Linked DNA regions of Homo sapiens: all the other regions are reported to be linked to region 5. Evidence: microRNA targets listed by miRTarBase, many of them from high-throughput screens and not tested one by one. Region 5 holds a microRNA gene; each other region holds the end of a gene's coding sequence.

What was found. The annotated mature microRNA hsa-miR-6781-3p reads UGCCUCUUUUCCACGGCCUCAG and lies in region 5 at 2,559-2,580, opposite strand. An mRNA with a match to its seed (bases 2 to 7 or 8) in the 3' UTR can be bound and repressed. Matches are read on the target gene's strand: a 7mer-m8 pairs with bases 2 to 8, a 7mer-A1 pairs with bases 2 to 7 and ends in A, and an 8mer does both.
Region 1: the mRNA of SURF6 is a reported target of hsa-miR-6781-3p. Seed matches in the 3' UTR shown: 7mer-A1 at 2,784-2,790.
Region 2: miRTarBase lists VTA1 as a target of hsa-miR-6781-3p. Seed matches in the 3' UTR shown: 7mer-m8 at 1,084-1,090.
Region 3: miRTarBase lists BLVRA as a target of hsa-miR-6781-3p. The part of its 3' UTR that is shown has no 7-base or 8-base seed match.
Region 4: miRTarBase lists FAM83D as a target of hsa-miR-6781-3p. The part of its 3' UTR that is shown has no 7-base or 8-base seed match.
Region 6: miRTarBase lists C21orf91 as a target of hsa-miR-6781-3p. The part of its 3' UTR that is shown has no 7-base or 8-base seed match.

What each region holds. Positions count from the first base shown.
Region 1 is chr9:133,328,160-133,333,401 of GRCh38, forward strand. SURF6 (surfeit 6) reads right to left here. Exons shown (of 5, transcript NM_006753.6): 4 at 4,389-4,601; 5 at 617-4,189. The coding sequence ends at 3,710. Among named protein-coding and RNA genes, the nearest start is that of SURF6, 5.4 kb to the right of the region's middle.
Region 2 is chr6:142,217,845-142,222,953 of GRCh38, reverse strand. VTA1 (vesicle trafficking 1) reads right to left here. Exons shown (of 8, transcript NM_016485.5): 8 at 1-4,456. The coding sequence ends at 4,311. Among named protein-coding and RNA genes, the nearest start is that of LINC02919, 40 kb to the left of the region's middle.
Region 3 is chr7:43,806,271-43,811,512 of GRCh38, reverse strand. It overlaps BLVRA (biliverdin reductase A), which reads right to left. Exons shown (of 8, transcript NM_000712.4): 8 at 4,171-4,536. The coding sequence ends at 4,278. Among named protein-coding and RNA genes, the nearest start is that of BLVRA, 50 kb to the right of the region's middle. RefSeq lists an enhancer at 625-724.
Region 4 is chr20:38,951,666-38,956,907 of GRCh38, forward strand. FAM83D (family with sequence similarity 83 member D) reads left to right here. Exons shown (of 4, transcript NM_030919.3): 4 at 1-1,441. The coding sequence ends at 855. Among named protein-coding and RNA genes, the nearest start is that of DHX35, 8.1 kb to the right of the region's middle.
Region 5 is chr17:42,821,322-42,826,379 of GRCh38, forward strand. MIR6781 (microRNA 6781) reads right to left here and starts at 2,622; the gene lies at 2,559-2,622. BECN1 (beclin 1) reads right to left here and starts at 2,961. Exons shown (of 12, transcript NM_001313998.2): 1 at 2,834-2,961; 2 at 2,427-2,558. The coding sequence starts at 2,556. RefSeq lists enhancers at 2,188-2,754, 2,755-3,323, 3,190-3,319, 3,324-3,890.
Region 6 is chr21:17,789,539-17,794,780 of GRCh38, reverse strand. C21orf91 (chromosome 21 open reading frame 91) reads left to right here. Exons shown (of 5, transcript NM_001100420.2): 5 at 1,200-5,242. The coding sequence ends at 1,366. C21orf91-OT1 (C21orf91 overlapping transcript 1) reads left to right here and starts at 2,272. Exons shown (of 4, transcript NR_038871.1): 1 at 2,272-2,304. All of the region lies in intron 2 of LOC124900465 (a long non-coding RNA gene), which reads right to left. RefSeq lists an enhancer at 652-821.

The DNA of each region.
Region 1 (5,242 bases), not on the chromosome of region 5:
CAGAGTGATGGCCCACGCCATGCATGACATGCGTTGCTCAATGACTGCATCCACTCAGCCAGTATGCCAGTCCCCACTGAGCCTCACTCTCAACCTCCCTGGCTGGCATAGGTTCCTTGTGCAGACATCCAGTGGCAGTAAAATATTGCTGGGTTCTCAGCTTCCCCCACCTGCAGCCCTCACTGGCCCACCCAGTTGTCCTGTCTCTGCTCAGGACGAGACCCCCCCCCGCCTCTTCAGTCTCTGTAGCCAGGTGATGGCAGTGGCCTTTTCCAGACCCTCACTGGCCCCTTAGTTCACTATGATGACTTCACCTCTTGGGAACCCATGGGGATGTCTTTCCCTCCAATACATCTACATTTGCCTGACCCAGAATGTAGTTTCAAGATGGGTCCATGCCTGGCTCCAAATCCCCTTATCAGAGTAAGGAAATACCTTAATTCCTAGTTTGCTAAAAACTCGTTATAAATGGCTGTCGCGTCATTTACTGTGTTCCTGTTCTGCAACCATTGAGATGGTCACGTGGGTTTTGCTCCTTTAATCTATTGATATGAATTACACTCTTGATTCTCTGGCATTGAAACTGCTTTGCAATTCTGAATTAAATCCAGTGTGGCACTTTGCTAAACTTGGTTTATTATTGTCTAAAATCTTGACATTGGTATTTGTAGGGACCAGCCCCACAGGGTCCGTGGGTCTCTCCCTCCCTGTGTGCAGCAATGAGAGAGTGTAGAAATACACACACAAGACAAAGAGATAAAAGAAAAGGCAGCTGGGCCCGGGAGACCACTACTACCAATGCTCGGAGACCGGTAGTGGCCCCGAATGTCTGGCTGCATTGTTATTTATTGGATACAAAGCAAAAGGGGCAGGGTAAAGAGTGTGAGTCATCTCCAATGATAGGTAAGGTCACGTGGATCACGTGTCCACTGGACAGGGTGCCCTTCCCTGCCTGGCAGCCGAGGCAGAGAGAGAGAGGAGACAGAGAGAAAGACAGCTTATGCCATTACTTCTGCATATCAGAGACTTTTAGTACTTTCACTAATTTACTACTGCTATCTAGAAGGCAGAGCCAGGTGTACAGGATGGAACATGAAGGCGGACTAGGAGCGTGACCACTGAAGCACAGCATCACAGGGAGACGGTTAGGCCTCCAGATAACTGCGGGCAGGCCTGCCGGATGTCAGGCCCTCCACAAGAGGTGGAAGAGCAGAGTCTTCTCTAAACTCCTCCAGGGAAAGGGACACTCCCTTTCCCGGTCTGCTAAGTAGCGGGTGTTGTTCCTTGATACTTTTTGCTACTGCTAGACCATGGTCCACCTGGCAACGGGCGTCTTCCCAGACGCTGGCGTCACCGCTAGACCAAGGAGCCCTCTGGTGGCCCTGTCCGGGCATAACAGAAGGCTCGCACTCTTGTCTTCTGGTCACACCTATGTCCCCTCAGCTCCTATCTCTGTATGGCCTGGTTTTTCCTAGGCTATGATTATAGAGCGAGGATTATTATAATATTGGAATAAAAGGTAATTGCTACAAACTAATGATTAATGATATTCATATGTAATCATATCTAAGATCTATATCTGCTGTAACTATTCTTGTTTTATATTTTATTATACTGGAACAGCTCGTGTCCTCTGTCTCTTGCCTCGGCGCCTGGGTGGCTTGCCGCCCACAGGTATTTGGTAACTTCCCTTTCTCTTACCTAGTTTTGGTATCAAAGCTAAGTTCACGAATGAAGTGTTCTCTCAATTGATTCTGTTAGAATTTGTCTACGTCTGGAATTACCTGTTCTCTATATCGTGGAACTTCCCTGTAAAACCGTCTAGGGGAACATTCTTAACTACTGACTCAATTTCATCAGTGATTACAACTCAGGCTTTCTATTACTTTTAGTCAGTTTTGGAGATTTTTCTTCCATTTACTTTGAGTTGTTCCAACTTAAGCTGCATGCTTATTTTTCTTTAGCTTTAAAAATACAGACATACAGCGTATGTGTGTATAAATGGCACTATTTATCTGTAGATGCACATACATTTAGGGGCTATGTTTTTTTGTGCTGCTTTAGCTCTGTTCCACAAATCTTAAATTTTTTCTTTTTGAGACAGTCTTGCTCTGTCACCCAGGCTGGAGTGCAGCGGCTCGATCTTGGCTCACTGCAGCCTCTACCTCCTGGGTTCAAGTGATTCTCCCGCCTCAGCCTCCCAAGCAGCTGGGACTACAGGTTTGCACCACCACACCCAGCTAATTTTTTATTTTTAATAGAGATGGGGTTTTATCATGTTGTCCAGGCTAGCCTTGAACTCCTGATCTCAAGTGATCCACCCGCCTCCCAAAGAGCTGGGATTGACAGCATGAGCCACCATGCCAGGCCCTGTTCCACAAATTTTAATACGTAGCATTTTCATTATCCTTTAGTCCCAAATATTTCTAATAGCCATTCGGAATTCTTTAACTCATAGGTAATTTATAAGTGTGTTTTAAAAATTCCAAATATGAAATGCCACTGCACTCCAGCCTGAGTGACAGAGCAAGACTCTATCTAAAAAACAAAAAAAAATAGCTCAAATTTTTTTTAATGACATTGGGATACGGTCAGATAACGACACTGATTCCTTGAAATATCTTAAGACTTCTTTTCTGGACAAAGTAGGTGGTCAGTTTCCATCCATGTTCCATATATGCATGGAAAGAGTATGTATTCTTTTCAGATACTGTTGTGTCTGTCTCTCAGCTCAAGCTCATGCTCACCTCACATCCTATCTTTCACAGGGCTTTTTCATCAGTTGCCTCTGTCTGGTAACAGTCACACCAGCTCCTGTTCAGTTACAGTCTTTGTCTCATAACCGGAGAGTTTCATCAAAAGAATTTTATTTACAGCTTTATCATCCATATGCCACTAAAATTCACCTGTTTTCTTTCAACCTGCACTCATTTTGATTGCCTGGAACTCTGGATTTAATTCTTCCATCCCACTTTGTATCTTGCATTCACTTCACTCTCTCTCCAGCTTTTATTCTTTCTTTCTCTTTCCCTAGGTCCAATGCACTTGACCCAACTCACATGCGTGGACTCCGGGAAGGTACTGCTCCCTCCCTCCAAATTCTGAGCAGTAAAATGCCGCCCCGGGGCACTGGGGAACAGAAAGGAATGAGACCCCAACAGGCAGAAGCCAAGAGAGCGGGGAGGAGCCATGGCGTTCTGCCCCAGGATGCACCACGCCTGGACGTGCTCCCCCGACTCCCAGTGCCAGGTGCCCATATGCCACACCTCAGGGTTGTCCTCTGTTCGGGTGAGCTGCGGACTAACGTGGCCCGGCAGCAGAGGCCACCGTCTTCTGTCCCGTGGCTCCTGCGAACACAGGCAGTGGGGAACAGGCAGTGACTGCCCACCCCCACCGTTCCTCCTCCCTGACCCTGCAAACCTCGGGGAAGCTTTCAGGCCCGGGAAAGCAGACCAGGCCCCAGTCTCCCTCACCCTTTCCCTGGGTCTGAAGGTCCCGGATCCTGCGTTCAAGGATGACGCTGAAACTCTCTCTTTCTCACATGGGATCTGTGATCTGGGCCCTCACAACTCAGCAGAGCACCACTGTGTCCCCCTCACATGGAGAGGCCGAGGTCTGTGGAGATCCTGGGACAGAGCCAGCGTCAAGGACTCAGAGGGTGTCCTGGAGTCTCCTAGGACGGAAGACGGCGGCCCCAGGTGGGAAAGACTCAGACCAGGCCTGCGCGCTCCAGGTCCTGCGGCAGGATGCGGCCCTTCTTGCGGGCTCTGAGCAGGCGGCGCTCGGCGCGGGCCGCCTTCTTCCTGCGCAGGTTCTGCCGCCGCCGGTCCTGGCGCTGCTGCATCTTCTCCACCACGCCGGCCGTGCGCTTCTCCCACCGGCGCTGCCGCTGCGCCCTGCGCTTCTCCTTGCGCTTCAGGGCCTCCTGCAGCAGGCGTTCGTCGTCACGGATCTTCACGCCCTCCGCCTTGTAGAGGAGGTTGGTCCACTTCATCTTCGCCTCCAGCTCCTGCGCCTTCCCCTCATCCTGGCCGCGCAGCTCGTCCAGCCGGCTCTGCCGTGCCTGCAGGCGCTCCAGCAGCTGCCGGTAGTTCCTCCCGGTCAGCGGCGTGAGGTTCCCCTTCACCCTCTGCCTCTTCTCTTTTCTGCGCTGCGCCTTGCTGGCCGGCTCGTCTTCGCTCACCTCCACCTGGGAGGAAGGTATGACATCAGCTCATGCCAGCCCTGCACTAGGCCCCAGCCTTGGCCAGTACCCTAAGGGACCTGCGAGGTCCCCGTCACCACCTTACAGACATGATGGGGTTCGGAGAGAGATCATGAAGCTAACAAGGGGCAACGCTGAGGCCTGAAGCCGACCCAGCCCGCCCAAGGACCCAGCTCCCGCTCACCTTATTGAAGATCAGCCCGGGCGGCTCCCGCGGCTCCGTGCAGGCCCCCTCTGGGGTTGCCTCCACCACCTCCTGGGCCTCCGTGGCCTCCTCAGCCTTCCTGGCCTTCTCTTTCGCCCGCAGCTCCTTTCGCTTCCTCTTCTTCCGGTCCCGTTCCTGCTTTCTCCGCCGCCTTTTCTCCAAGGCGGCAGGGGACAGCTCCTTGGCACTGCCCTGGGGGAAAGAGGCACCCACTCATTAAAGTTCTCTCGATCCCAGGGTCCCCCAGCCTGGCCCATAGTCGAGAAGAATCAGGGCTGGAAGGCAGGTGAGAAAATCCTCACGCAAACAAGGGGCCCGCGGAGTTCAATGTTCCACCATGATGTTCCCCAAAAAGCAAATGACCCCAAAAGAGAGAAGGGACCCCCAAATAAGAATCACAGCTTCCAATTCCCGGGTGCTTACCCCGTGCCAGGATACATTACGCACATGGTTTCAAATGTCATACATCGTTTTATAGATGAGGAGGGTCAAGACCACTGCCTAGAACTTGGAGTTGGCGTCTGAACACCTGTCCTGACCGCTGCCCATTCTGTTCACGAGGTACCCAACGAAGCCCTCCCCAATGGCCTTTCCCATCCCCGGGCCAACAAGAGCCCTACACCAGCCCAAACGAGACCTGTGCTTCAGGAACAAGGGCCCAGAGCCTTGCTCACCTCTTAGGAACCACACACTGTACCTCGGGATGGCGGAGGAGAGTAGCTGGGGACTGTCCCCCACACAGCACGAGGCCTTAAGGAAGGGCCCCAGGAAAAGGGTGGGTAGGGGCCAACACAGGGGAGACAGTACCATTCAGCACAAAGAGCTGCATTGGT
Region 2 (5,109 bases), not on the chromosome of region 5:
TTAGGCAAATTTGTTACTCTGTGGCTCCCTTTCCTCATCTTAAAACAGAAATAAAGCCTACCTCTCAGGACCACTGTGAAGATTAAATGAATTAATATATGCAAAATACTTAGAATAGTATCTGACATTTAGTAAACATTGAAATGTTAGCTATTATGATTATTATTGAAGTGTTGCTTACTTAGAATTTGTCCTACTTAAGTGTACTCCAATGAACAAGCCTGCAGTCTTAGAATTCCACATAGACTTCAAAGATTACAACCAACCAGGGAAGGATACTTCTCATATGAAAACCAAAACCCATCAACTCCATTAGCTATTATTCTTTTAGAGTTGAAAATATTTGTACAATGCTGCTATTAGGGTGTTTCTTTAGAAAAGACAGTATATAATCTTTCAATGCATACATAGAATTCTCAAATTTCTAGAATTACAAGTCATATATAAATTCTAAAAACATCTGAGGATATTAATTTTCAAGACCCATAACTGGAGTCTTTTTCTTGGTGTAGTCCTGATGTCAGTAAACTTCCTAGGCCATGCTAACCATGGGAACTATTCTTGGCTTGCAGCTCCAGTTCAGCAGTGATTTGGTGAGATATCTGTGGCAATCATTGTCAGCAGAACCTTATTTCTTCTTCTCCCTCTGCCGCATTGACAAAACACCGTTATCAGTTTCACTTGGGCTGGTCACAAAAACTTGGAAACATTGTACTTCAGTCTAAGTGAGAGAGGAATTCGGCAACTTTCCCTACTGCAGTACATGATTACTCATTCCTTTCAGGCATTCAGGTGAAAAATCTGGAGTCAACCTTTACTCCTTCTCTTATGTTCGTACCTCACATCCAGTTTACAGAAATCCTGTGGCTCTACCTAAAAAAAAGCCGCCAGAAACCAATCCCGTTTTATTACCTCCAAGGCTACTCCTGGACTAAGACATCATAATATCTCACCTTGATTATTGTAATACTTTTTTTTTTTTTGAGAAGGAGTCTCGCTCTGTCGCCCAGGCTGGAGTGCAGTGGCACGATCTCGGCTCACTGCAACCTCCGCCTCCTGGGTTCAAGCGATTCTCCTGCCTCAGCCTCTTCAGTAGCTGAGATTAGAGGTATGTGCCACCATGCCAGGCTAATATATATATTATATATTTATTAATATATTTATGATTTATATATAAATACATATTTATATATTAATAAATATATACTCCTGACCTCAGATGATCCGCCTGCCTTGGCTCCCAAAGTGCTGGGATTGCAGGTGCGAACCACCGCCCCCGGCCTATTGTTAATACTCTTTTTAACTGGTCTCCCAGCTTCCTCCCTTACTTACCACCCACCTTACGGTCTATTCTCAACATAGGAGCCAATATGATTATTTCAAAAGTTAAGTCACATCAGGCTACGTTTCTTCTGAAAACCTTTCCATATAGCTCCCAGTCAAGTGTCTTACAAAAAAGCTTTATGATCCTAAGCTTTTAGCTCCCTCACCAGCCTTTCTCCTGCTTTTACCCTCTGACCTGATTTCTGTCTACCTGTTGGGAATGCTCTTCCTCCATGTATGTATCTGCATACTAGTTACTCTTTTCCTTCTTTGCTCAAATGTTACCTCAGGGAGGTCTATCCTGGCTATTCTATTGAAATATGCATATGTCTGTACACACCTAAGCATCTCCTATCCTGTCCTCAATGTTTCCTCCATAGCATTTATCACTATTTAATACAGAAGTTCCCATAGTGTGGTCCCCAGAACTTTCTAGCAAGTTCGCAGGTGATGCTGATGCCGGTCGTCCAGAGACACCTTTGAGAACCGGTTTGAGGAGAATCTCTTTTCTCAGACTTGCAATATTTCTGATTTGGGTAGAGCTAAACCACTCGAACTTTAGGGACCACCTTAAGTGTCTCTTAAAACTCAGAAGGCTGGGACCCATCCCTAGAGTTTCTGATTGGGTAGGACAGGTGGGGCCCAAAATTTGTATTTCTAATCACACTCGGAGAGCCACTGATTAAATGTAATGTATATTTTATTATCTATTTCCTCCCTTTTAGAATGTAAACTCTATGAGGGAGGGACTTTTTTTCCTGCTGTTTCTGCTTTCAAAGAACAATACCAGGCATATAGTAGCCATTCAGTAAATATATATGGAAGGAATAAATGAAAATTGCTAATCCTACTGTTACATCAGAACACATCTCCTAATTTTATTTTAAGATTTTATAGGAAAAAATACAAATACAAAGTTAACAAACATTGTATAGTTCAATCCCCTCATGCAAGAAGGCGTTTTTAAGCACTGGGCCACATAGACAACTGGGATTTCCTGATATTAGGGAAATAAATTATTAACAATTTACATTATTAGAGCATTAGTATTGACACTAAACATTTATGAAATGCTACCATGCGCTAAGCACTTCAGGTACTGTATCTCTTTTAATTCTTGTAACTATTGAGATGGCTAGTGGTGTCATTTCCATTTTACAGAGAAGGGCTCTGTCACACCATGCAGCCCACTACCAGCGGACTCCGTAGTTTCTATATTGTCTCCTTCCCTCTATGTGCTCTCCCAATTGGGAACCAGAAGGTAGGGTATAAAATAGGAGGTGATGCGTTTACTTTTCAGTGTCCAGGCATATCAAGGTTTGAATTAAAATTTGCTGAACATCATGTAACACTAAAGGTCATCCTGGCCATCTTTCTATTCGTAATAACATTCTAAAGAGCATTGGATTTCTAGATGCAAATGTGGAACCCTACAAATGTTCATACCTCTTGTAAAAGATAGGAAAATGTTTTTTAGGAGGCATGTTGTTTGGGGACTTTTTTGTGAGGATTTAGAACAGTTTAGTCAGTCTGAATATTTATTCTACCAAACCCTGTACAATAGCATTACATTTATGCAGAAAATAATGGATATAAATGATTATGAGTTAGTGATTTGTTTTTTCCCAAAAGGCCATTAGACTAGGTGTCTTAACTTTTTCTTAGAGGGCCAAATAGTAAATGTTTTTAGACTTGCAAGCCATACAACTCTGCAGTTGTGGAAAGCAACCACAGACAAAACATAAATGAATGAGTGTAGGCTTGTTTCAAAGAAACTTTATTTACGTAACAGGTGGCCAATCCATGGGCCAAAGCTTGCTGACCCTTGTGTTTAAAGATTCCCATCTTAGTAGCATGAATAAAATGGACCAGATAAATTTCAGTTAACTTTGTCAAATTTATCTTAAAAAACAAAAAACAAAAAACCTGTTTCTTCCTATAGAAACACCCATATTCCTATAAATAAAAATGACTTTTAAAAAAGACAATCCTAGCAGGCAAATAAAAACAGACATTTGTCTTTGTAGTAAGTTGAATTAGCTAAACGAATCCTTGTATTTATTTTTCACACAGCACAAATGCAGGTAGTACACAGTAAGTTCATAATTCCCCACAAAACTTATAAACTTAACAAATGGGAATCTAAACATAATATTCTGAATCACCCATAGCTATCCACTGTGTGGAATCCATTCTACAGCAGCAGAGGAGTACCTTAATTTAAAGCACCAAGTTTCCAGGCATTACTACAAATATCTTCTTTTCATTCTCTAATACATGCAGTCAAACTGCCTATGAAGCAAATACCAATTCATCTTACGCTTTAACAGATAAGGTAAAGCACTTGGGAAATCAACATTATTCTTAAGTCTGAAAGTGATTCTACCTCTTTACCTTATTATATTTTCTCCCATGAAATTTTAAACTTTTAATGGAGTTATATTTAATATGAGAATAAATTAAAATTTGAACTTAATGTCTTTTCAGATTCATCCAGCAGTTTAGAATGTTTATATTTGTTTTATGTCTTGAGGGAAACAAAAACGTAATTTCTAATTTAGAATATTCTGGCTATCTTTATTAAAAGTTACATTTATAATTTTATAGCAAAGTAATATCATCTGTTTGTCCAAACATTACAGATTTTAAAAAATTCCCCTAATGTATGTAAATACAAAGCTTATTCCCAGTACACATTTTATAGAGGTGTGTTTTCATTTTTTGAAGCAGGGTTCAATGGACATTTTTAGGGTCTTGCTAACATCAGCCCTATATACTCAGAGACGATTGAATCTAGTAAATGGACAATGAAAACTGGTTGAGGCTGCTGATGAATGCTTCAATAAAAATCTGATACACACAGATTTCATTGTCATATTCAACAAAACCAAGTCTTCCTTAAAACTGTGATCCTGATAGGCTGAAGATAGAGTAATGGACTGTTAGTTCCTCATGCCAAAAATACATGGGTCTGTCATACAAAGGCTTCATTCTCTGCCTGTCGTCAGTAACTTGAGAGCCTTTTGTAGATTCTGGACAGCAGTGCTTACATCTTCATACTGCAAAGCACTGCCAGCATATTTGCAGTACTTCTGAGCTCTAGCAAAGTCTTCTGGGGTTAGACGAACATCCCCTAGAAGAAAAAGAACAATTGGGATATTTATAAGAATATAAAAAGTGTTCTGTAAGGTTGGGCAAATGCTTATGCTTAAGATTAAAAAACATATTTAAGGCTATGTAAAAACAGTAGTTTTAGTCAATCTCACATGAACTTTGATACATTTTCTTCATTCTTTTCAATTGTCTTTTTATTACTAATATAAACCACAGACACGGCAATACATAATAACTTAGATGAATTAAGATTTTCCTTCAAGAAGCAATAAGGACAAACAAGGATAGCAGCTTTGGTGTCTATGCTAAAATCACTTAGCCTCTCTCTTCATGGAACAATACACACAGACTAAACCAATTCAACCCTCATTTGAGCTGGAATGTAAGTATCACCTTCAATAAAAAAAAAGTGAATAACAAACTTTATGTAAAGAAAACCAGGTTGCTTAGCTTGTTTTAAGCATGAGAGTATTTTACATGTTTGTGCCATCCATGTAAAAATTTCTTAAGGTTTCTTAAATTTTATATCACTGAAATATACAATTAAACATGTAAACAACCATTACATATTATTTCTCTAAAATTTATTCTTAGCAAGTTTTCTAGTTATACATATGATTAACATGTAGTGCCCAACTAAACAATTTCAGTTTAAAAAAAAAACATTAAAAA
Region 3 (5,242 bases), not on the chromosome of region 5:
TAATTCTTGAGACACTGGACCTTTATCATTAACACGTCGGATTAGAAGCTGACACATTACATCCTTATTCGACATAAACTTTGGCCAGAAGATCAAGGATTTGAGGATGGGTCCCTGAGTCCAAATAAAACAGAAATATTTTATCATTTGTTGCTTTTTCCTATGTTTAGTCCTTTCATTATCCTTCCAGTATTTTAACATGAGACCTAGGGGGCCATCCAGGATGATATCTTTGTTACCATCTTTATTTATCTTGCTCCCTGTCTTGCTTGGGGTATTTCCCATCTTGATGGTTTTGGGTTAAGGTTCAAGGTTCAATTTCCCTTACTGGAAATTTCTTGCCTTTTGGGGTGAGGCTCAATTTCCCCCACTGGAAATTTCTTGCCTTTTGGGGTGAGGCTCAATTTCCCCACTGGAAATCTCTTGCCTTTTGGGGTGAGCTCAATTTCCCCCCTGGAAATTTCTTGCCTTTTCTACTACTGGAGGTTTGTGTGATGTCTTGCCTCTTTTTAACCTCTATGCTACCCCAACCAAGGAGTACTTCATTGCCCCCCCGCGGCTTTCTTACCTTGGTCCTGACCACCAAGGATATACTTTACCGGCTCCCGTGGTGTCTTTTCCTCCGTCCGTGCACAGACTTGCATGGCCGTTAGGGAGGCCATTATGGAGGATCCAGCTAGGTTGCTGGCCAGTTTCTTTTTGCTTTGCTGAGAGCTCGGGTTATTCCTTGCACTGGGTGGGTCCTAATTTCTCACCCCTGAGGCTGCCACAAGGGGGCGGGGCGCGCCTCCTCATGAGAGAGGACTTGAGACTACCCCTGGAGGGGAATGTAATCACAGGCGAGCCCCCAAGTTGTTTTAAGTAAAGTTTCGGTGCCGCAAAAGAAATAGCACTTGAATATAAAATTTTCTTTTTAATTCTCAGCAAGTCAATGTACTTCTACAGAAGGGTGCGCCCTTACAGATGGAGCAATGGTTGAGTGCACACCTGGACAAGGGAGGGGAAAGGGTTCTTATCCCTGATGCACATGGCCCCTGCTGCTGTGTCATTCCCCTATTGGCTAGGGTTAGACCACACAGGCCAAACTAACTCCAACTGGCTAATTTAAAGAGAGTGACAGGGTGAGTGGTTTGGCGGGAAAAATGGTTATGGCAGAGCAGGAAATCGGAATGAGTCAGGATGGAGCAGGTAATCGAAAAAGGTTGCTTTATGAGGAAGTTAAGTTTACAAGTAGAAGGCAAAGAATTGAACATACTGACATACTGATTCTTTAAAGAGAAATTTAGAACTCATATCTAACACACTGATGGCTATAGCATATCCTCTGTCCTTTTTCCTATCTATTGGAGGAGGAGACTTAGGTGAGACCTCCGTTTCCTGTTATTTTGACCCAGTGATATTGGGACTGAGGGAAGAGGAGGTGATAAGGCAGGTGACATTTTCTCCTCCTTCCTCTTTTTAGGCTCTTCTGTGTGTAACTGAGCCAGGGCTGCTCTAATTAAAGCCCATAACATTAAAGATTTTACTGGGACCTGATGCCTTTGCACCTGATGTTGTTTAAGATTTCTCCCCACTTGTTCCCAGAGTTCTACATCTAGTGTTCTTTCCTCTGGGAACCATGGGCTTTGTACTCCATTATTGACCACACTAGTTTTTAATTCCTTCAACAACTGAAATTCTAGTGGGGTGTGTTCATGAATAAACTGCTGTGGATTATTGGGATCAGGCCTTATGGAAACAGGAACAGCGCAAGGTCCTAAGGGCTCTCCAGCTATGACAGCAGAGCGTAAAATTCTTTGTATTGGGGTTTCTATTTGTGCTACTGAAGGAGGCAGTACAGATGTTTCTGCAATTGGAGGAGGCGGTATAGGCCAATTTTTATCCTCTCTGTTTTTTATTTTCAATTGGAGCTGTGGGTGGGACAACATATTCTTTCAGATTTTTAGATTCAGGCTGTTGTCCCACAGAATAATAAGGAGATAATGGTAGAAGTACAGTACAAACTAAACTCCAAGTGGAGAAAACAGAAGAATCAACTAAGAATCAGCTAAGACCTTTTTGATGAGCCTGTTTTAATCCTTCTCCTGCTTTGTCTCAATTTTCCATATCAAGGATGCCTGCCTGTGGGAACCATGGGTTATGCGTAATAACCTTTTGTGGCTTCTGCAGGAGGTTAGTGTCTGCGAATTAACCTAAGCTCCAGACTGTCTCTACAGAACTTTAAGCAACTGCACATAATGTTTTTCTTCAATAGACAAATTCTTCCCCTTGTTAGCCTGATTCAGAAAACTTCCTGTTCCTAGTACTTCTTTAAAGCACTGCTCCCAGTACCTCTTTACGGCACTGATCAGTACCTCTTTAGGGCACTGACCTTATCTCTGCTGCTGGCAGACTCGTTTCGGGGTCCCCATTCGCCTTGTCAATTTCAGTTCCTCTGCTCCAGCGGACTTTCTTCATTCATGTCCTCGAAGTCCTGTGTTCGGATGCCACTATGCAGAGCACCCGATCCTGTTGCTGTTTGGGGTGCCACTTGTAACCTGCATGGACCTCGGGGGACTGAACAAAGGGGGGCGAATGTGGGAATAAAAGACAAGACACAAAAGAGTATATTTGGAAGAAGAGGTCAAGGGGCATCTTGCCTCTAGTGGACAAGGGCCGTGAGCTTTACACAGCCCTCTGTATTTATTAGGTGAAAGAGACAGCAAGAAAGTGGGAGGATGGTTGTCGGGTAATTGTCAGTCAGCCGTTTGGTTCACAGCGGGCTTGTGAACAATAGGCGCTAGATTTCTCAATAGATAACTTCCAGGAGCCCGGCGCCAGGGCATGATGTCCCTCAGCAAACATTTTGGTGGCAAGGCAGTGTGAGTTTGCCCACATCCTGCATTCATGATAAACAGTTCGCTGTTTGATCATATAGCCTCCAGCGGAATGCTGAGTTGGTCACGTCCCGCGGGCCTTTGGCTCCCTGCAGGGTAACTCTGTCTTAGGATAACTCTTAGGCTCCACCTTAGGGTAACTCTGTCTTAGGCTCTTAAACTCTTAGGGTAACTCTTAGGCTCTGTCTTAGGGTAACTGTCTTAGGCTCTGTCTTAGGGTAACTGCCCTGTCTTAGGGTAACTCAATTCTTCATCACAGCTGCAGGTCACCTACTTGCAGAGGAAGAGTCTGCTTTAGTCACCTGCCACGTGGACAAGCTTGGGTGCATCCTAAGGATGTCGGTTCAGAGGGAGAAGGTGGCTGGGTGTCATGTGTTTAGTCCCTTTTCCAGCTTCACCAGACAGGCAGGTCACTGCTGCCACAGGGAGAGGGGCTGAGGGGCAAAGGGCACCTCTGTGGTCACTCTTGCCTGGAGACACAAGGCCCTCCTGAAGGACCCCTCAACACTTAGGAGCATTAGTACAGCGGGATTAAGGGCTTTTTTTTTCTTCAAATTGGACAGAGGGACAGACTGCTGAGGAATACATGTGGATTCTTTCCTTCTGTGACACTCTGAAAGAATTGTGACTGGGGCATGGGGTGCCACCTTCAGAGGCAGGAGTGTTTAGGAAATGCCACAGTGGCACATGACCTGCGTGGGCTCCAGCAGCAGCAGCAACCTGCAGGGTAGATAGGGCAGCTGAGAACACGAGAGCAGAAGGGCGGTGACTCTATCATCTCGGAGGGTTCTGTTCAAACAACATTTTCTAGTATACAATGAAAAGAGACCTGGTGCCAGGCATGGTGGCTCATGCCTCTAATCCCAGCACTTTGGGAGGCCGAGGCAGGTGGATTACCTGAGGTTGGGAGTTCGAGCGAGACCAGGCTGGCTAACGTGGCGAAACCTCATCTCTACTAAAACTACAAAAATTAGCCAGGATTAGGCACGCGCCTGTAATCCTCAGCTCCTTGGGAGACTGAGGCAGGATAACTGATTGAACCCAGGAGGTGGAAGCTGCAGTGAACCGAGATGGTGCCACTACACTCCATCCTGGGTGACACAGTGAGACTCTCAAAAAAAAAAAAAAAAAAAAAAGAGGCCTGCTAGTACTCATCTCATAGGGCTGTTAGGAGGAGTAAGTGAAATCAGACATACAAAGCATTTAGCTCAGCTCAACCAACGCTCATTCTCGCCTTGTCCCCACTGCATAGCCCCTAACCCCAAATATCCCAACATAGCTCATAACAATAAGATTCTTGTTTCCCCAACATGTTTAATTTTAAGAATAGAGATAATGGTCAACTCTTGAGAAGAACCAAATGCTGGTGCCATCTTGGAAGTGCTACATCACCTCCTCCTCTTACTTCCTTGAACAGCAATATTTCTGGATTTCTTCTGCAAGCCCCAGGCAGTGCAGGATGCGTTTCTTTTCAGCAGCCAGTTCCTTCTCAGAGAACTGGCCCAAGAGTTTCTGGACAAATATATTTTGATCTTTCAGAAATATGTTCTTATTCACTCCTACATTTGGCACATTCTCCAAGGACCCAGACTTGAAATGGAAGCTTAAATATCTGTTTCGTTTTAGACCAGGTCCTTTTTCTTCAATCCATGACAGTGGACTGCAAAGACAAAAGACAAAAGAATCATGTTAGAGATTACACAAGAGCACAAGTGGGTGCTTGCTGGCACCAGACCGCCTGGTAACATGTCCTTGTCAGGCACCCATCCTCCTTGCAGCCACCAGCCTCCCAGAGGCTGTGGGTGACTGTGTCAACCTCACAGCCAAACAGTCTTTAATTTAATTTTGCCATCAGGCAGGGGAATTCATTCAGTGACTTTTTTTTTTCTGGGATGGAGCCTTGCTCTGTCACCCAGGCTGGAGTGCAGTGGTGCAATCTCGACCCACTGCAACCTCTGCCTTCTGGGTTCAAGCAATTTTCCTGCCTCAGCCTCCCAAGTAGCTGGGATTACAGGCGCCTGCCACCATGCCTGGCTACTTTTTAAAAAAATATTTTTAGTAGAAATGGGGTTTTGCCATGTCAGCCAGGCTAGTCTTGAATTCCTGACCTCAAGAGACCCACCTGCCTTGGCCTCCCAAACTGCTGGGATTACAGGCGTGAGCCACTGCACCTGGCCTCCCATGACTAGTTTTAAAAGCTCATAGTACAGTCTAGCAAATGTTCTGGGAGATGGCAACAAAGATTAACTTTTATTTTGGCACTGAATAAAAATAAACTTGAGGTATTCTACGTAGTCTGCCTAAGAAAATTTCTCATGTCTTTTTTTTGAGATGTTTGCTCTTGTTGCCCAGGCTGGAGTGCAGTG
Region 4 (5,242 bases), not on the chromosome of region 5:
CTGTCTCACTTCCAGAGCAGCAACAAGTTTGATCACCTCACCAACCGAAAACCACAGTCCAAGGAGCTCACCCTGGGCAACCTGCTGCGGATGCGGCTGGCTAGGCTGTCAAGTACTCCCAGGAAGGCGGACCTGGACCCAGAGATGCCCGCAGAGGGCAAGGCAGAGCGCAAGCCCCATGACTGTGAGTCCTCTACTGTTAGTGAGGAAGACTACTTCAGCAGCCACAGGGACGAGCTCCAGAGCAGAAAGGCCATTGACGCTGCCACTCAAACAGAGCCAGGAGAGGAGATGCCAGGGCTGAGTGTGAGTGAGGTGGGAACACAAACCAGCATCACCACAGCATGTGCTGGTACCCAGACTGCAGTCATCACCAGGATAGCAAGCTCTCAAACCACGATTTGGTCCAGATCGACCACTACTCAGACTGACATGGATGAGAACATTCTCTTTCCTCGAGGAACTCAATCTACAGAAGGGTCACCAGTCTCAAAAATGTCTGTATCGAGATCTTCCAGTTTGAAGTCTTCCTCCTCTGTGTCTTCCCAAGGCTCTGTGGCAAGCTCCACTGGTTCTCCCGCTTCCATCAGAACCACTGACTTCCACAATCCTGGCTATCCCAAGTACCTGGGCACCCCCCACCTGGAACTGTACTTGAGTGACTCACTTAGAAACTTGAACAAAGAGCGGCAATTCCACTTCGCTGGTATCAGGTCCCGGCTCAACCACATGCTGGCTATGCTGTCAAGGAGAACACTCTTTACTGAAAACCACCTTGGCCTTCATTCTGGCAATTTCAGCAGAGTTAATTTGCTTGCTGTTAGAGATGTAGCACTTTATCCTTCCTATCAGTAACTGCTCCGTGTTCAGACTCCTGGTTTCTTCCAGGCTTACAGTGGACATCATCAGCTTCCTGCTTTAAAAAATATCTTATGTCCCTAATTGCCTTTCTTTTACCTGACTTTGTCACCTTTGTTGTCTTTGAATTCTTTAGGCTGCATATTATTTTACATGCTTTGTTTTGTCATGTATATACCAGGTATTGGTTTTATGGTTTAAACACTATGGATACAGGGGTTTGTTTTGCACAATTTTAATAGTCATGCACTACATAATGATGTTTTGGTCAATGACAGACCACGTATATGTTGGCAGTCTCATAAGATTATAATACTGTATTTTTACTATACCTTTTCTGTGTTTAGATACAAATACCATTATGTTACAGTTGCCTACAGTATTCAGTGCAGTAACATGATGTACAGGTTTGTAGCCTGTTTTGCATTTTTCTTAGGTTGTATGCTCTTCTGTTTTAAAGGTTTGAATCACCAGCATTTTTGTGATCAAAATCCTATTTAGAAAAAATAAAACTACTTTCTGTTTATCTCTTTAGAATATCTGTGTTCTTAGCATTAAATAAATATAAACTTGTGCTTCTGTACTTTTTCCCCCCCTCTGACACTTTTCTCTTTAAATCTGGGAGTATGTCACAAATTAATGCACCTAATAGATATAGGTATATAGATATCTATATCTGAAGGTTTTTTAAATAGTGTCAGGGTGAGGAAGAAGTAGATGATCCAAACTATAGAAGAGAAAATAGATCCACTTAACCTTCCTCAGCATCATGAATATTGATGTTACTCTATAGTTTAAGTGAGGAAACTGGCCAGAAATAGCAGGCCTTTGCACATGCTCTGCCTTTTCTCTTTTCGAAGAAAAAGCCTGAGCTATTTCAGTAGGTCCTTGGTACTCTGGTACTCTGCTTGTCTACCAAAGGAGGCGTTAGTGTATGTTCCTATATTCATTCCCAATATTAACTCTGGTGGCCCCATGGGCCTCATTTCATCAGCTGGGTGTATTGACAGTGATTTAGCCATCTAATATCCCAGAGTAGGGGCAAAAGAGGACACTGACAATTATCCCAGTTTCCTGGTCCAGTGGCAGGCAGTGTAATGGTTTCTACATCCTTCTAATCAGGATTGGTATGGCTGTGGAATCCTGTTTTTGTCTCATTCTCATGGACAGACAAAAGGGAAGAGAGTTAAATGATGCCTTCCTCCCTCTCCTGACTTAGCTACAGCAAAAAAGATCTATAACAGGGGAAGGTGTCTGCCACATAAAATGCTGATGCACTTGTATCATGAGTGTCCCTACACTCACGCGTGTGCCAGGACTTCCTTATGATGGTCAGGCTATTTGCTGGGTTAGTGCTGTAATCTGTGGCTATAAAGAAAAGGAAAGGAAGGAAATTGATCCATGTCTGCTTAGAAACAACTCTGAGCTAAGCCTCGAGTAAACATATTGTTATTTGAAATCATCTTACAGACTTAAGTCACTTCATATATGCCATCTTTGATCTTTGCAGCAATGTAGCAGAGAGCTATGCAGGTTAGGTAGCTGTTATTTCCAATTTTCAGATGAAACTGAGGCACTGATTAAGTAGCATATTCAAGATGACATGGCTTGTAAATGGTGATGCAAGAATTTAAACACAGGTTTCTAGATTCTAAGTGCAGTACTCTGTTACATGACTATTTCTCTACACGGAGTATGGAAGCAGGAGAGAGTGTACCTTGAGAAATGGCAGTTACTGCAATGGTGAATGGAAAACTAAAACAGCCTCATTAACAAACGTTAAGTACAGGCTGGGCGCGGTGGTTCACGCCTGTAATCCCAGCACTTTGGGAGGCTGAGGTGGGCGGATCACCTGAGGTCAGCAGTTTGAGACCAGCCTCAACATGGAGAAACCCTGTCTCTATTAAAAATACAAAATTAGCTGGGTGTGGTGGTGCATGCCCCTAATCCTAGCTACTCGGGAGGCTGAGGCAGGAGAATTGCTTGAACCTGGGAGGCGGAGGTTGTGGTGAGCCGAGATCACGCTATTGCACTCCAGCCTGGGCAACAAGAGCCAAACTCTGTCTCAAAAAAAACAAAACAAAAACAAAACAGCAAAAAAAGCAAAGTACAACAAAAAAAAGTAAGTACAAAGTCCTAATCTGTGATACTTCTTTTTGTTTGTTTTTGAAGCAGTCTCGTTCTATTGCTCAGGCTGGAGTGCAGTGGCACAATCACAGCTCACTATTTTTTTGTAAAGGCAGGGTCTCACTATGGTGCCTAGGCTGCTCTTAAACTCCTGGGCTCAAGTGATCCTCTTGCCTCAGCCCCTCAAAGTGCCGGGATTACAGGCATGAGCTACTGCATTCAGCCTGTGATAATGTATTTTAATTTAGTTTGAAATTTTAACTGAATGTTCTATGGAACTGTTAATAGGATGACATAACAAAGGTTCTGTGTTTAGTGTGAGAAACTGGGCCAAAGAAATGTAAACAAAGTTCTTTAATGCAGGACTACTCAGAACTCTGAAGTAATGATCACAGTGAATTTCTCAGAGCAGGGCAGGTATATGGCTTACCACAAACTACCTACCACAGAGTGCTCTTTTTGTGGAGCAGGACTCAAAACCATTATTCTCTGAAAGTGTGGCCAACAATTAGAAATAAGAGCAAGAGCCGGGCGCGGTGGCTCACGCCTGTAATCCCAGCACTTTGGGAGGCCGAGGCGGGCGGATCACGAGGTCAGGAGATCGAGACCATCCTGGCTAACACGGTGAAACCCCGTCTCTACTAAAAAAATACAAAAAATTAGCCGGGCGTGGTGGTGGGCGCCTGTAGTCCCAGCTACTCGGGAGGCTGAGGCAGGAGAATGGCATGAACCCAAGAGGCGGAGCTTGCAGTGAGCCGGGATAGCGCCACTGCAGTCCAGCTTGGGCGAAAGAGTGAGACTCCGTCTCAAAAAAAAAAAAAAAAAAAAAAAAAAAGAAGAAGAAGAAAAAAGGCCGGGCGCGGTGGCTCACGCCTGTAATCCCAGCACTTTGGGAGGCCGAGGCGGGCGGATCACGAGGTCAGGAGATCGAGACCATCCCGGCTAAAACGGTGAAACCCCGTCTCTACTAAAAATACAAAAAATTAGCCGGGCGTAGTGGCGGGCGCCTGTAGTCCCAGCTACTTGGGAGGCTGAGGCAGGAGAATGGCGTGAACCCGGGAGGCGGAGCTTGCAGTGAGCCGAGATCCCGCCACTGCACTCCAGCCTGGGCGACAGAGCGAGACTCCGTCTCAAAAAAAAAAAAAAAAGACAAAAAAAAAAGAAATAAGAGCAAGAGATACATGGAGTCCTAAGAAAATGACCCAGTCTCTCAAAGTAAGCAGTCTTTCTGGAGTTGAGTCCAGAAAGTATCATTTATATGGCAGAGTTTTTCAAAGTGAGATCTGAGGACCACCTGCATCAGTCTTGGGGTGCTTGGGTGCTTCCATTTAAAATGCTGATTACTGGTTTCACTCCCAGGGGAGCGGGGTATGAGTGTGGCAGCCTATGTAGTTCAAAAATATTTGTTATTCCTCCCTGGGAGAAAATTATATCCCTCTGTCTACTGTCAGATTTGGCCATCGCAGACTTAGCTGTGAATATTTCAGCATATATATCTAAAAGATAACTGTTTTAGAAAACATAATCATGGCCAGGCGCGGTGGCTCATGCCTATAATCCCAGCACTTTGGGAGGCCAAGGCGGGTGGATCACGAGGTCAGGAGTTTGACACCAGCCTGGCCAACATAGTGAAACCCCGTCTCTACTAAAAATACAAAAATTAGCCGGGCATGGTGGTGTGCGCCTGTAGTCCCAGCTATTCGGGAGGCTGAGGCAGGAGAATGGCGTGAACCCGGGAGGTGGAGGTTGTGGTGAGCCAAGATTGCGCCACTGCACTCCATCCTGGGTGACAGTGAGACTCTGTTTCAAAACAACAACAAAAAAGAAAACCACTTTACCACTGTCACACCTAAACAACTTTGATACAAACTTATCAAATAAATATTCAGTGTTTAAATTCAGTTGTCTAATTTTTTTCTCCCCCTGATGGTTTGTTTGAATTAGAGGTTGATCCATGCAGGCTTGACATTCTCCTATTAAAGGAATCAACTGAAGAGGTGGCCGGCCACCCCACCTCTGTAGGCAGTTGGGCTGGGGAGTATCTGTCGTTTACTTATGGGACTTAAAGCGACTAACAAGAAAAGCTAGGGTACAAGGTCGTGTAAATGAAAAGTTACATGAAGGAAACCCAAGGGTGAGGGATAAAAAGTGGAGTCTGGAATGAGGCTTGAAGAGCCCGCCATGACATACACACCTACTTCATGAGGCCACACGTTTAAGCTTTCCAATAGTGAATACAGAGAAGCCTGGTCAGATA
Region 5 (5,058 bases):
TGGGATTACAGGCTGAGTCACCGCGCCCGGCCGGTATCATTTATCTTTAAGAATCCTTATCTGTCAAAAATACAGAAATATTTACAGTATTTATGTTTGGGATTTGCTTCAAAACAATTCAGAGTGGGAAGGAATGGATGGGGCTGTAGACAAAACTTGATTAAATATGTGTTGATAATTGTTGCAACTAGGTGATGGGTACACAGGAGTTCATGATATACTCTGAAATTTTCCATCACAAAAGCAAACATCCTGTTTCCCCCAGAATAGCAAGGAGGGAACATAAGGAAACTTTCTAGGAAGATGAAACATTGCTAAATTGCAACGATCCAGATTACATCAGTGTATCCATTTGTCAAAAATGTACAGCTAAGATTCATACATTTCAAGTCATGACAATTTACCTTTCTAAAAAGGTGTGAAAAACATAATAATTGAGCAGAGGATGGGAGGTGAATGGAGGTGTAGACAACATAAGAATGTGAGAATATGGCTGATTATTGAAGCTGGATGATGAATACAAGGCAGGCTATGCTATTCTCTTGACTATATATGTCTCAAATTTTCCATAATAAAAAGTCAAAAATTGTTATTAAAAGAGTTTAAGAGGCGCGGTGGCTCACGCCTGTAGTCCCAGCACTTTGGGAGGCTGAGGCGGGCAGATCACAAGGTCAAGAGATCGAGACCATCCTGGCCAACATAGTGAAACCGTCTCTACTAAAAATACAAAAATTAGCTGGGCGTGGCGGTGTGTGCCTGCAGTCCCAGCTACTCAGGAGGCTGACGCAGGACAATCACTTGAACCCGGGAGGCAGAGGTTGCAGTGAGCCGAGATCGCGCCACTGCACTCCAGCCTGGCAACAGAGTGAGACTCCGTCTCAAACAAACAAACAAAAAAAAGAGCTAATTTCCCCTCAAGAAAGAGAAACCAGGTAATAATAGCAGCTAATACTTATTGAATACTATTTGCCCAGCAAATTCCTAAGTGTTTCTGTGGTTTGTCATATTTGAACTTTATAAATTCTTTATGAGGCAGTTTAACGTTTTACAGAAAAAATCAGAAACCAAGGCTTGGAGAAATGAAGTAACTTGCAAAAAGTTGTTCAGCTAGTAAATGACAGCCAGGATTTAAACCCAAGCAGGCTGACTCCAGGCCCATAAGCTTATTTAAGCTGCCTATTCAGTCTTCTCTTTTACTGTCTGACTTAATCTGAATTCTTCTGACTTTGCGGGATTTTGGGGTTTTTTATTTTTTTTAATTATAGAGACAGGGTCTTACTGTGTTGCCCAGGCTGGTCTCAAACTCCTGCTCAAGTGATCCACCTGCCTCAGCCTCCCATAGTGCTGGGATCACAGGTGTGAACCACCACTCCTGGCCTTTTTAATTAATTTATTTTTTGAGACAGGGTCTTGCACTGTTGCCCAAGCTGCAGTGCAGTGGCATGATCATAGCTTCCTGCAGCTTTGACCTCCTGGGCTCAAGTGATCCTCCTGCCTCAGCCTCCACCACCCACCACACCCAGCAATTTTTTTTTTTTTTTAGAGACAAGATCTCTGCTAGGTTGCTCAGGTTGGTCTTGAACTCCTGGGCTCAAGCGATCCTCCCACCTCAGCCTCCCAAAGCACTGAGATTACAGGCGTGAGCCATCACATCCAGCAAATTCTTCAGACTTTAAGACTCTACTCCATTTACCAGCTGTTGGACCTTAGGTAAGTCACTTAACCTCTCTGTGCCTCGGTTCTTCATCTGAAAAATGATGTAATGACGGTATACCCCGTACGGGTTGTTACAGGGACTAAATGAAGTAATACGTGTAATGCACTTGGTATTACTATATAGTAAGTCCTCAAAAAATACCATTTATTATTATATATACATATTCCTTTTCTCTGAAACAGCAGGAGCAGAAAATAAGGATCTTTCTTTTGCTACTGAAAGCTCTCTTTTTTTGAGACGGAGCCTCGCTCTGTTGCCCAGGCTGGAGTGCAGTGGTGCGATCTCAGCTCACTGCAAACTCCACCTCACCGGTTCAAGCGATTCTCCTGCCTCAACCTCCCGAGTAGCTGGGACTACAGGCACGTGCCATCACGCCCGGCTAATTTTTGTATTTTTAGTAGAGAGGGGTTTCGCCATGTTGGCCAGGCTGGTCTCGAACTCCTGACCTCAGGTGATCTGCCCGCCTCGGTCTCCCAAAATGCTGGGATTACAGGCGTGAGCCACCGCGCCCGGTCGGAAAGCTCTCAGAAGTCCACAATGTCAGAATGCTTTATGTTTCCAAGGAGAAAACAGGGAGCCAGATGAAGTGACTTTCCTAGGTTCACACGATGAGTTTGTGGCAGACTACACAGCCACCATAAGAATTATATCACCAAAGCTGCCCACCTTCCACATTCTTGACCACCCTCTTTCCAAGGGTCTCGCTGACCTGTGAGTTCCTGGATGGTGACACGGTCCAGGATCTTGAAACTCGTGTCCAGTTTCAGGGGCTGGCTGCAGCGCTGGCACACGAAGCTCACCTGCATGGTGCTGTTGTTGGACGTCTTAGACCCTTCCATCCCTGAGGCCGTGGAAAAGAGGCAACATTAGGGAGAAGCGACGCCCTTGACCTCCGGCCCGGGGTTACCACATGCCTTGGTGACGATGGTAAAGGGAGGGAAGTCCCAACCTGCGCCGTTCCCTCTAGGAATGGTATGATACGGGGAGGACCTGCTTCCGGGACAGCCTGAGCAAAGGCAGTTTAGAGCCCAGGGTCAGGGAAGGGACTCCAATAAGAGCCGTGAGGGTTCCCAGACTCCCTTCTAAGGTCCCACCTCAGCCCCCGATGCTCTTCACCTCGGGAGCCCGGAGCCCGTCACCCAAGTCCGGTCTACCGCGGAGGCACTGTGGCCTCGGGTCGGCCCCGGAGCGAGGCCTCCAGAACTACCATCGCTCTGTCTTCAGCGACTTCCCGGTAGCCGCCGGAAAACTTCCGCCCGAGACCGGACGTGACGCTACGACGGCAGCAGGAGCTCCTGGTCCACAGGCTCACAGGCCCGGCAGCGGCCCCCAGAGGCCGGGCTGGGAAAAGCAGCGGGCTTCAGCGGATGAACAAGGTTACCACGGGAAGTGTAGGAGCCAAGGCCGCAGAGAATGGGGAGGCTCCGCTATTCTCTAAATTCAGGGGGCGGCGGGCGCGGTGGCTCACGCCTGTAATCTCAGCACTTGGGGAGGCCGAGGAGGGCGGATCACGTGAGGTCAGGAGTTCGAGACCAGCCTGGCCAACACAGTGAAACCCCGTCTCTACTAAAAATACAAAAACTAGCCGGGCGTGGTGGGGCACGCCTATAATCCCAGCTTAATCCCAGCTACTCGGGAGGCTGAGGCAGGAGAATCGCTTGAACCTGGGAGGTGGAGGTTGCAGTGAGCCGAGATCGGGCCACTGCACTCCAGCCTGGGCGACAGGGCAAGGCTCCATCTCAGAACAACAACAGCAACAACAAAAGGCCGGGCATGGTGGCTCACGCTTGTAATTCCAGCACTTTGGGAGGCCGAGGCGGGCGGATCACAAGGTCAGGAGTTCGAGACCAGCCTGGCCAAAATGGTTAAATCCCGTCTCTACTAAAAAATACAATTAGCTGGGCATGGTGGCGTGCGCCTGTAATCCCAGCTACTCAGGAGGCTGGGGTAGGAAAATCGCTTGACCCCCGGAGGCGGAGGTTGCAGTGAGTCGAGATCATGCCACTGCACTCCAGCCTGGGCGACAGAAGGAAACTCCATCTCAAACCCCCCCCCCCCACACACACACACAAAACCAACAAAAAAAGAAAGTGATATTCAAATAAAAGCTTGAAGAAGGTGAGGAAGGAATTCTTACCTGCATCTTAAGGAAGAGCATTCTAGGCCAAGGGAACAGCAAGAGCACAGAGGGTACCTGTTTGGGGATTAGCAGAGGCTGGTGTGGCTAGAAGATGGGCAACGAAAAGAGATACAGAAAATGGGGTGAGGGAGGTAAGAGTGTTGAGCTACCACCTAGGCTCTTATAGGGATTGTAAAGCTCTGGCTTTCACTTTGAATGAGATGAGATGACTGGGTCTTGAGCAGAGGGACTTACTTCATTTTTAAAAACAACTTTATGGGGTATAATTTACATACCATAAGACTCACACTTTTTAAATGTACAGTTCAATAATTTTTAGTAAATTTACACAGTTGCCCAACTATCACCATAATCCAGTTTTAGAACATTTCCCATCTCCCCTTGCAATCCCCCACTGTGGCCTCCCAAAGTGCTGAGATTACAGGTGTGAGCCAATGTGCCTGGCCAAAAGTTTTTCATTTCAATAAAGTCCAATGTTTATGCTTTTGGTGTAAAAGAAACCACTGCTTAACCCAAAATTGTATGTAGTATTGTCTATTTTATTTTTATTTTGAGACAGTGTCTTACTCTGTTACCCAGGCTGGAGTGAAGCGGAACAAACAAACATGGCTCACTGCAGATTTGACTTCCTGGCTCAAGCAATCCTCTTGCTTCAACCTCCAGTGTAGCAGGGACCACAGGTGATCACTACCATGCCCAGCTAATTTTTAAAATTTTTTGTAGAGATGTGGTCTCACACTGCACTCCAGCCTCGGTGACAGAGCGAGACGCCATCTCAAAAAAAAAAAGAGATGGGGTCTCACTTTGTTGCCCAGGCTTCTGCTTTTTAAATTTAACATTTTTCTATGTTGCTACACAGTTATTGTAGTTATCATGGCTACATTACACTACACTAAATGTACTGCCTTAGTGTATTTTTTTACCGCTGGAAATTCTACTATTTCCCCTGTGGGTGATTACAATAATCCTGCAATGAAGAGCTGGCTACTTATGATAGAGACTCATAACTGGGACTACAGAATTAAGAGTGTGTCAGCTATTTAATGTCTCTTCCTTAACACTGGGAATCATTTTCCAAAGTGCTTGCACATAACTATATTCTGCTTCCAGTAATGTATGAGGAAGCCTGTTTTCATATTGCCTTGGCCAGTATTGGGTATCATATATTTGGGGAACAAAAGCAAAAAATGGCACTTCCTTG
Region 6 (5,242 bases), not on the chromosome of region 5:
TTTTCTTTTCTAAGTGAAAATGGAAACTACCACCTCTTACTAACATTTTATTGACTACCCACTATTGCACCAGGCACTATGTGGGAGTCCTCCCAAACAGTTCTTTAAGGCATGTGATATTAGTCTTTTTTGTTAAATTATAAACAATTTCAAACATATATAAAAGTAGTGAGACTAGTATAGTGAACCCTTTAAGCCATTTTCACCAGCTTCAACTGTTAGCAAAGGCATAATAATCAGTATCTCTACTTGCATCCATTCCCATTGCACTACCAGTAGCATGGATTATTTTCAAACAAATCCTAGCTAACACACTGTTTTTTGTCCATAAATAGTTTAGGATTTCCTCTAAAAGAGATAACTTTTTAAAAAACAGTCACAGTCTCATTATCACACCATTTAAAGTTAATAATTCCTTAACGTCATCAAGTATAATGCTAACACTAACAAGTAATGTTCAGATTCCGCAGTTGTCTCCTTTTCAATTTATTTCCTTTTAGATGAGAAAATTGTACTTCAGAGATGTTAAGTTGCTTACAGAGATCATGCATCCAATCAGTAGCAGATCAAGGATTTAAACTCCAAAGCTTAACCACACAGCCTCTCAGAATAATAAAAATAATCACAATAATAGTTGTAGTAGAAATTTATGAGTACTTTACAAATATGATCTCATTTAATTTTTACAGTAGCCTGGTGAAGTGCTTACTATCATTATTAATGTTACACAGAAAAGGAAATTGAAACCAAAAGTTGCTTGCCTGAGGCACGTAAGAGTAGGAACAAGGATTCAAAACTCTTAGTAGTCTGATTCCAAAGCCTCTTAGAGGGGGTTCCAGACCTGAATACTAACAGGCACTTCTTGTCCATAAATCACATTATGTACTAATTGAATCTGTTTATAGATTCTAATTGAGAAAAGTAGCTCAGCTACAGTAGCAACCACCATTTTTGCTGTGTATCTCTGTAGTCACTTGATGGAGAAGAGCCAAATTCCATTTGGCTATGTAAAGTATACAGATGCCTAGGATGATCAGAACTGATATGCTTTGTAGAGAACAGAACTGTTTCCTTGGTATCAAATCAGTTTCATTGTGACACTTTGCCCAATGCATAGATTTCAGTTAGAGTTCTTGAAATATAAATCATAGCACCGGCTTTCTGCATACTAAAAATGAAAGTTTTTAAATCTTTTACAGAAGTTTTTGAAGAGTTAACTCACCAAGTGCAAGAAAAAGATTCTTTGGCCTCACAGCTCCATGTCCGCCACGTTGCCATCGAACAGCTTCTGAAGAACTGTTCTAAGTTACCATGTCTGCAAGTAGGGCGAACAGGAATGAAGTCGCACCTACCCATAAACAACTGACCTAAACAGACTTACTTCGTATGCCCTGCCCTTTATTGGTCTCCCAGACATGCAAACTTTGAAGAAGTTTGAAGAAAGTTGTGGTCCGTTTTTTTATGGTCATTAAATTTGCCAAACATAAGGCAGTATTTAACATCTTTGTCAAATAAAGCAGATCATTATACTCTAGTCTTCTAGGGCTAATCATTTTGGCTCATTTGGGGACTCTTTTTTCCCAGAATTACTAAACAAATTTTATCACATGTGACTACTTAAATATACTGTTACAGTGTCATTTTATTAAACATTTTAATTCACCTGTCAAAACAACAGATTAACTCCTTAGTGTAAACTACTAGAGATAATTTTTAAGAGGGAAATGGAATTCATATCACCTCTTATTTATTATGAGCAATATTTTAATATAAAAATTTTATATGTGAAAATGCTATTTTAGGTACTTTGCCATTCTCTTTATAAATGTGTATTTGAGTGGTTCTGTATATTTATTTACATTATCATGTGTGAATATGTTCACCCATATTTCAGGTCACTGCATTTTATTCTCTTAATACAATGTTTTCACAACGGTTACCTTGCTTTCCAAAGATAAATATATTTTGGATTAGAAATCTGAGTTGTTTTAATTTCTAATACCTCTTGTAAAAGAAGAATTAATAACTTTTTAAAGCAGTATTCAGGTAAATACAATACATTATTTTGTTTTCTAACAAAAGCAGTTCTTAGTTCAGGAAGAAAAGACTAATCTGGCTTCTATGTCAATTTGTCTCCATAGAAATGAAAGCCTCCTCTTGCTTCTTTCATTATTAGCTTCACACCAGTGACTGTGATGCATTAGAATTTGGACAGAGTAAGTCAAGCCTCACTTCCAATTCAAATATAATGTCTATCTTCAAATTGAGTGTGCTGTGAAATTGTTCTGTCTTTGAAAAAAAAAAGTAAGATTATTTTGTGTGCCACTTTGGGTAAAGTTTCAAGAATACTTAAACTGTCCAAATTGTATTATCACCATCATTGAACTTAGTGCTCAAAGAAAGCATTGTGAGGTATTTTTCTAAACTTTAGACTCTATAGAGAAATATAGGATTGTTCTACAGAAGAAAAGCAAAACTCCTAATTAAAAAAAAATAAACCTATGTATTAAGAGAATGTTCTCGTAAGTTGCCTATGATGCTTCCAAAGAGTTTTTATCTAACAGATTGTGCCAAACAGCTAGATAAATTTTAATAATGTATTACAGTAAAGGCTATAACCAATGCAGAATTAAAATGGGCTCTAAATTCTGTTTTTAACTCATGTTTAGAATGTACTTATGAGGTAGATCCTTGCTTGAAAGTATCTGCTGAAAAGCCCAGTAACGTGGCAGCTTCATGCATAAAGATATAAATGACATTTGCCTTAAATTTGGCAGCCTACCCTGGCTTGGGTCAGATTTTGTTGTTGAACACAAGAAAGTATTTAAGCAAAGAAACACTTCAGTTTAATTGAAAACAACTTTTTGTAATGCTGACGTGTTAAATTGGCCTGAGGGTATTAATTGATATCTGTTGATTTTGTTTTTCTTTGAAGTATAACATTACTTTTTGGAGGGAATTTTTGAAAGATGCTTTCGATTTCTCTCAATTCTTTAAGTCATGCAAAATGAATTTAAAATCCAGGGAGTATGGATGCATTGCCTTAGTTTTGATGAGCTTTAAATTAAATGTGTGCAATATCAAAATATTCAAACTTACAAGCTGGGTAAATACATTTCCTGATTAATATCTTAGTGCTTAATTGTTCCCACATTTTCAAATTTGACTTTACTCTTTTTTGGCGTAATTCAGTAAGATTGTTACCAGCCAGTGTGTTTGCACACATTTGGGTTTGTGTTTAGATGAGTTAGGGACAGTCATAAAAGTTGGGGATATGTTGCATTTGATATCAATAGTAGCATATTTCCAGAATATGAGCCATAAGTTGCAGTCCTGAATACAACAGTGTTATCCAAAGAAAGGAGTTTTCTGACAAATATACATAGCTTTGCTAATGAGTACGGAACAAGTGGATGAACGTGTGCATGTGCTAAGGTCTTAAGTGGGACTCTGATTTATTCCATTTAGATATTTCTACTTAAGCTCTAAAAAGGAGAGGTGCTCTTAAAAAAAACTTTGTGGTGCTGGTACTCACACTACTTTATTTGGATGAGTTCCTAGTAAAAAAAACTTTTTGTTGAAGTATTTTGCACAGCAGTTTATCCAAATGTTTGGTAAACTTATAATTTAGTCCTATGTTAGTTTTCTTAATCAAATATGCAATTACTGTGTATGCAAATATAAGTATCAGGTACAGAGTTGAGTTCTAACAAGAGAACATGAAATATCACAAATATTGTTTTCCACACTTGGCTATTCTCTACAGTTGTTAGTAATTTTTGAGAATGTTTTGAAGCATATCTCATGTACTACTGTTTAAAAAGTGGCAAAACAGACTGCCAGTCATCCATTACTAAATTTTCAGAGCTTATATGATTAAGGGGAGTGAGATAAGACAAATCTTTTTCACGTTCAGTTTTATAATTTGACACGTTAAATTGAGTTTTAAAAATTAGAAAAGTGTTTTTGACCACACAGGTTGTTCTCTTTAAAGTTCAGCCTTATAATGAAGCTAAAAATCAATTATGTTTTACTTTGAGATTATCATCTTATCCTTTGATCCTCATATTAATATCTAAATTAGTCTTTTTTAAAAGGCATGCACTTGAGACTCCAGTAATAGATGATTCAGGCAGCAGAATAGTGTTTTGTTGTGTCGTTGACTATGCACAATGGTGGAGCAAAGACACATTCTTAGTTTTTCAAAACACATGTTCATTTTACCACAAAGTGCCCATTTTTATATACATTTAAGGATTATTTTTTCAATGTCAAGTTCATGTTAGTGATTTCAGAAATATAGTCAAAATATATAGTCAAATATATCTTGACAGGCATCTTGAGATTTGGTTTTTCATTTTACTATATTTATGACTGAAAATGGTTTTGTGTTTTCTTTATGTTGTTTATATATTTTTTACCTTAGTGTTTACACTGGTAAGGCTTGTTAGTCCATTTTTGTAGTTTTTTTAAAGTAAGCTTTTAGATCTATTTGTGTTTTAATGTTTCCCAGTTTGGGTTTTGTTTTGTTTTGGAAGAATCTGCTTTCATTATTAAATTATAAAATGTAAATGCTCTAAAGTAGGAATTTTTAAAGAGTAAATTATTTGTGTAGCTTATTAGGAGGTTCAGGTTAGTGACCATAAAGTGGGTTACTTGTACATGAAAATTTGAAATGGTACCATGTAAAATTCTTCTATTGTCAACTTTTTCTGATGTATGCCAGTTCATTTACTGACAAATGTTGTTACTAAGTGCTTATTAAGAAGTGTAATACGCTATAAAAAAGTTAATACTTTTTGTTCAGATGTAAGGCAAAGATAATTGATGCCGTTTCAGTGTATGATTGTATTTTTAACTTTTACGTTGGTGGGAGTAACTATTTGAGGAAATTTGTGGTGAGAATTAGTAAGAGATAAAACCCCCAACAGTTTATTCTTACCAAGTAAAGTTTTGTGGTCATGGGGCAGGGAAGAGTTTATTTACCAGAATACTAGAGCCCTCACACAAAATAAAGGTAACTTGGAGGAGGGCTATAATGCTTGCATCTCAGTATTTTCATTTCACTTCATCCTTTCATAATTGCCTTGATTATGGTGCAGTCTAACCTATTAAGCAACTTCTGGCTATGGTAACATTGATATGAACCATATTATATCAAGTCTCCAAAACATCTAGTTTGTTAACATACACTTTCCCTGTTCTTTTTAGTTTGAGTCCACATTACTAATACATTTTAATA